Regions from separate parts of the Homo sapiens genome. Here region 1 is linked to region 2. The links come from fine-mapping of genetic effects on gene expression. Tissue or cell type: ileum. Region 2 holds a variant in brackets; the other region holds the start of a gene. All regions are shown on one strand. Distances are between the middles of the regions.

The links. PIP is the estimated chance that this variant, and not a neighbour inherited with it, causes the effect.
Region 1: LINC02883 starts here. The variant in region 2 is the best candidate, but not a certain one, in a credible set for the expression of LINC02883 in ileum (GTEx, PIP 0.64).

The regions. Positions count from the first base shown.
Region 1 is chr15:85,757,236-85,760,149 of GRCh38, reverse strand. It overlaps LINC02883 (long intergenic non-protein coding RNA 2883), which reads left to right and starts at 1,425. Exons shown (of 6, transcript NR_120366.1): 1 at 1,425-1,639; 2 at 1,802-1,899; 3 at 2,161-2,266. It overlaps KLHL25 (kelch like family member 25), which reads left to right. Exons shown (of 3, transcript NM_022480.4): 3 at 1-824.
Region 2 is chr15:85,679,367-85,682,280 of GRCh38, reverse strand. AKAP13 (A-kinase anchoring protein 13) reads right to left here. Exons shown (of 37, transcript NM_007200.5): 15 at 69-123. Among named protein-coding and RNA genes, the nearest start is that of LINC02883, 78 kb to the left of the region's middle. The variant C/T (reference allele first, on the strand shown) is at 1,558.

The DNA of each region.
Region 1 (2,914 bases), 78 kb before region 2:
CTGGAGACAGCAGAGGGACCCCAGGGTGTCCCCTGCAGATCCCACCAGGGCCGCATCCATCTCAGTGTGGAGGACAGTGACGGGACCCTCACCATCCTCTTGCGTTTTGGCCCCCATTTGCTCCCTGAGCTCCAAGATAAGAATGGCCCCGAGAGAACTGCTGAACATTTGTTCATTGCTGTCACCTCCTGAGTCACTGGGGTCCCTCACCAGCACCTCCCTGACACCTGGGCTATGGAGAGGTTGGCGCCTGTCAGTGACCATCCTAATGCCTCTCGCTCACTCCCAAGCCACCATTTGAGAGGGAGGGGTGTTGGTGCCCTGACAGGGACTGGGCAGGGTGTCCAAACTTGGGGCTTCCCAGGCACCTGCAGTGTGAACACTGCTTGGCTGGCTCAAGATTAGGGCCGCGGAGGGGGCTGTGCACATACCAGTTACTTAAGCAGCCACGAGTGTCCCCCATGCCTTGGTGCGGGTCCTGGAGGCCTCTTGGGGGTGGGACCTTTGGGCAGGGTTTGCCCACTGACACGCCCGCCATGGGGCACTGGCTGCATGGGGCTCCTTGGACCCTGTAGACCCAGCAGACCCCGCCTGTGTCAGGCCAGCTGCCCGAAGGCACTTGGCTGTGGTCCCAGGGGACGGCTCTGCTGGCACACTCAGGAGCCTGGCCGCGGGGACTGCAGGGAGGGTGCCTGGACCCGTGGGGTTGCTTCATTGAGATAAAGCACACTTATCACATAGCACAAAGGACGTGCCATGGTGCTTTCCCCAAAAGTTGTGTTGCTTTTATCAGTTTTCTAACTTAATAAAAAGAGTTGAGAAAATTCTTTGCCTGCCTTGTGTGCTGGGATCAGTCTTGGAGACATTGCTGGTGGCTGACTTTGGTCTTGTCCCACCAGCCAAGGCTCAAGGCCTGCCTGCTGGCATCTGCCCCTCTCATGAGCTGGGAAGGGGGAACCCACCCAGATGAGAGGTCTCCCCATTCCTGTGCCTCCTGAAGTTGCTTTAGAAGCCATGAAGTTGATTCCGTGGAGAGTCCTGATCCTGTCTGCCCCTCCTGAGAGTGATTCTCTCCTGGAAACTCTGGTAAATAGAAGTTGGGAATGTAATTCCATCCATTCGAAAAGGCAGAACCTCCAGTTGATGCTCCTTTGTCTGAAAATAACCCGAGCGCCATTCAGAGGGGCGAAATGGCTCCAGGAGGCAGCTTCACGGCCGCAGCGCCAGCTCACGGCACCGTTGCGCCCACTGGTTGCACCGTGGGCCCTGGGCTACCTGCCCTCCTTGTGCGTTTTCATAGTCACCATGAACCTCATGAGCTCAAGCGTATGCTCACGGGTAAACATCGTGTTCTGTGTTTTGTGATCTCACCTTCAGGCGCCCCTCAGACAGCGGGCAGCCCGAGAAGGTCATGCCGTGGCGCAGCCTGCGTGCAGGGTGGCTCTGCTGTGAACAGGAACCCGGAGGTGCCCCAGCACGGTGGCTCTCAGCAGTGGCTTCCGTGGTGCTCAGTGGTGTGCTGGCCCACAAAATCCAAATAGCGCCTTCACAGTGTAAGAAGTGCTTCTGATGCTGGCGTAGGGGCATGACGCCAGATTCCTTAGAAAATGGAATGATCTTGAGCGGGTGTGTCTCAGAGGTGAGTATGGTGCGTGTAGAAGAGCCAAGAGCACAGAGGGCCTCGTCCCTCCCCCTGCCCAGAGGTGCAGCCCTGGGAGGGGCATCCTGGGACTCTGCCTCGCACTGTCTGCTCCTGTAGCAGTGGTGGGGACCACAGGTGAACGCTACCACTTCCACACAGGCCTGAGCGCTTCACTCTGGGCATCCAAAGCCAGGAGTTGGCTCCAGCTAGAGTCCAGACAGCAGCAGAGGTGAAGTTCCCTGTCACACAGTCACAGGGTGAGTGTGAGCCAGCTGTGGCCCACAGGGCTCCAACTCTCTCCCCCTCTCTCCCTCTCTCTCCAACTCCCACCCCCTCTCTCCCTGCCCTGCCGTCTTCCATGCAAGGCAGCGGTTTCCTGGTCCACCCTGGCCTTCGCAGCCCCGGCCATCCCATCTGCATTCCAGCCAGTGGAAAGGGGAGGAGAGAAAGTGATGGGCAAGCCTGTTTTAAGGGCATGTCCCAGAAGTTGCACCATAACTTCTCCATTTTCCCAACAGCTAGAACTCAGTCACATCCACGCCTGACTGCGAGCGGGACTGGAAAGTGCCCCGAGGAAACTCCAGGACTCCAACGCCAAGTAAAGGGAGCGTAGATATTAGACAGGTAGCAGCCTCTTCCTCTACATGCTGGGTCAGGGGTTGGAAGGAACCTGGGCACACCGCCCTGCCTCCCGCTTCTCTGGGAGCATGCAGAGCCGTCATCTGCCAAGATCCTGGCTCTTGTCAAACCCTTCTTGTCAAGCAGTTGTCAAGCCCACTGGCCAGTGCTTTGCATAACTACCTCCTTTAACCCTCACAGTGACCCCCGGAGGTAGACATTCTTGTCCTCTTCTTGCTGATGAAGAAATGGGTCCACAGGTCACAGTAACTTGCCCAATGTCTCATGCTGGAAAGAGGAGGAGGAGGAGGAGGAAAAAACACGGTTGCAACTGACAGAATGTGGATTTGGAGCTAGGCCCACCTGAGTTTGGGTTCAAGCTCTCACGTGTGGCTCTCATGTATGTGCAAGCTTGGTTAAACCACTTGATTCTCTGATACAGACTTAATGATAGTAGGGTTAAAAGTTGAGGTCAAATTCTATAAAGCACTAAACACCAGGACCAATGCCCAGATAGCCCTTTACAGGGGGAGAATGGCCGCCACATTACAGCAGTGGAACTGGGATTTGAAACCAAGCCATATGCTACATTGTGGGGGCTGGGGGCTGGGAGCAGTGTTGCTTCCAGTCATTGCCCAGCAGGCCTAGCTCCAT
Region 2 (2,914 bases):
AATGGCCTAAGAGATTTTAAATTTTCTTCATTTTATTTCTGGAAAAAGGAGTAACAAATTTATAGTACCTCTCAGTCAGATTAGCACTGGTATTGTGGAAGGTACTGTGGAAGGGCCGTGAATCTAGAAAACAAGGCAGAAAAAAAGTTAGAACCAAAAAATTTAACACTGATGCCGGGTAGAATATTTATAAATTCACAATGACACAGCTAAAGCAAAAACAGCGTGTGAAAGTCAGCACATGGTACCTCCTCCTTCTAAAGGTTTGAAAGAAGGAAAAATTAAACTTGAAACCCTCAAATTAGAACCAGAAGTAGGTAGTGAATTTCTCATGAAGAAAATAAGTTTAATCCAGGATTCAAGTAACTAAAAAGACTCCAAATAACTTTTTCTAATGCTTAAACACATATGAAGCATGTTTAATTCCAGTTCTTATCAATCTTCAGTTTGCACAAACCATCCTTCTGAGATGACATCATAGGAAGAATATAGAATAGGAAATTAAATGTCATATTTTATCCGTTAATACTGCTTTTATATGTTTCTATAAGATCTAGCTCATCTCTAATATTTTCATGAGAATTGCTAGAAATAGATTAGCAAACAGGAAAGAGCATCAGAGCTGGCTTATCAAGTCTTCGCCCTGTCACTAATTTGGGATGAGACCTTTGGATTTCATTTCCTCATCTGTGAAATGAGGGAGATAAAACAGATGGCAAAGTCCTTTCCAGGCTAATAGAGATAAAAATGAATGAGGCAGATGCGTACTTCTTCCTTCCACAACCACTGGACCATAAACTGCCGCAGGTCATTAAAATTCTAAGACTATGTCAGATAGGGCAATATGAAGAAAAAATAGAAGGAATATTATTATTTTTATCTACCACATGTTAATAAAGATTGAGTTACTGAAGACTTAGATGAGAGCAAGACCTCAGTCACAGTGATAAATGATTTTCAATTTTCAGGACATCAGTTATAGAACTATTTCCATGTATATTCCAGGGAAACAAAGGTTACTCTGTAACACTATTTTAACGATTTAGACAAAACACCTTCCTTTTTCCTTGAGGTTGGTTTCAAGGATCTCTGAGATTACTGTAAGCAAAACTTTAATCTGATAGAGATTTGAAGATGTTCTACTACCAGACTACCAGCATTTGGGCCAGGCGCGGTGGCTCATGCCTGTAATCCCAACACTTTGGGAGGCAGAGGCAGGCAGATCACTTGAGGTCAGGAGTTTAAGACCAGGCTGACCAACATGGTGAAACCCCTTCTCTACTAAAAATACACAAATTGGCCAGGCGTGGTGGCGCATGCCTGTAGTCCCAGCTACTCGGGAGGCTGAGGCAGGAGAATTGCTTGAACCCAGGAGGTCGAGGTTGCAGTGAGCCGAGATTGCGCCACTGCACTCCAGCCTGGGTAACAGAGCGAGATTCCATCTCAAAAACAAAAACAAACAAAAAAACTCCCAGATTACCCGCATTTGAAACTCTTCAACTCTCAAACTGTTCCAGATTCTGAACAGAAATCCAAAACTGTAGTTATTATTTTTAT[C/T]TATTATTGTTACAAATTTTTTTTAGAAACAGGGACTCGCCATGTTGCCCAGGCTGGTCTTGAACCCCTGGGCTCAGGCAATCCTCCTGTCTCCGCTTCCCAAAGTGCTGGGATTACAGGGGTGAGCCATTGCACCTGGCTAAATTTAAATTGCCAACAGGTAGGAATAATACATAAGAAACCTTAAAACAAATTCTAAGTCTTCAAAAGATTGCCTTCCGTATTTTTTTCCTTTTTCCCAGTTTAGGGTTCTTCTTCTGTTCATTTCACTTACAACACATGGTAACAACAGCCAGGTAAGAGGGAAAGATTAGCAGCATAAGAATATCTGGGATCCATCCCCAGGTTCTGCATAATCTAGGTGTAAAATATCAGCATTTTAATCTTATGATGCATTAGTGTACTTAAAAAAAAAATCAAGAGGATAGTTTAAATCAGTGGTTTTAAAACCTTTTCTGCCCAAGGAAACTTCAGTGATAGGAGCAGCATTAAATTTTCTAAGCTTGCCTGGATTCTACTATACATTTAAGCAATTACCTAGTAAGTTACCACCCTAGTAATATGAACTAAATAAAAATAAAATTCATAATGCAGAAAAATACCAACCAACACAAAGCAGGGCCAATCATAAGCTTCCAGCAGATATGTGTGGAATAAATTAAAGACTGAACACATATGTGATTGAGTACTAGGAGAATCTATGACTCCTATAATATTTTCAACTTTTCCACTGCTAAAAATTTTAGTTAAGTTATGATGACCTTTTAGATGTGGTTCTGAACACAGTAATTAATCCACCAATGCCTCTGAAATTCCTAAAGTATCATCAAGTTTTCAGAGCACCTAAGGGTAGAAAACAACCAATGCTACTTCCATGACAAAATTATGGACAAAATAAATGAAACGAAACGAAACTTGTCATTAAAGTTAGCCTGCAAAGTATTATTGTGGGTAAATAATATATTTCAACTAGATTATCTTTCAAGGCATGAAATAACCTGCAGATTTATACTACAGCCAGGAACTTCAGGGTGGAACTACTGGATGGACACAGTTGATATTTTTCAGAGTGTGTTCCGTGGAACACCAGTTTCATGAAATGTTGTATACAGTGCTGCACATATTGTGGTTTTCTAGTTAATACATTTGGGAGAAACAGTATATTGAACACTGCCTTGAAAATCCACAACGTAACACAACGTTAGCATTTTAAACCTGCTTAACCCAGAGTTTCCTAAATTTACTAATATTTGGCCATGAACCAACCCCTCCCTTCTTTTGGTTCTCCCTGCCCACACATAATTCTTACTAGTAGTTTTGAATTTAAGGAACACATTTTGAGAAGATACTTGATTCA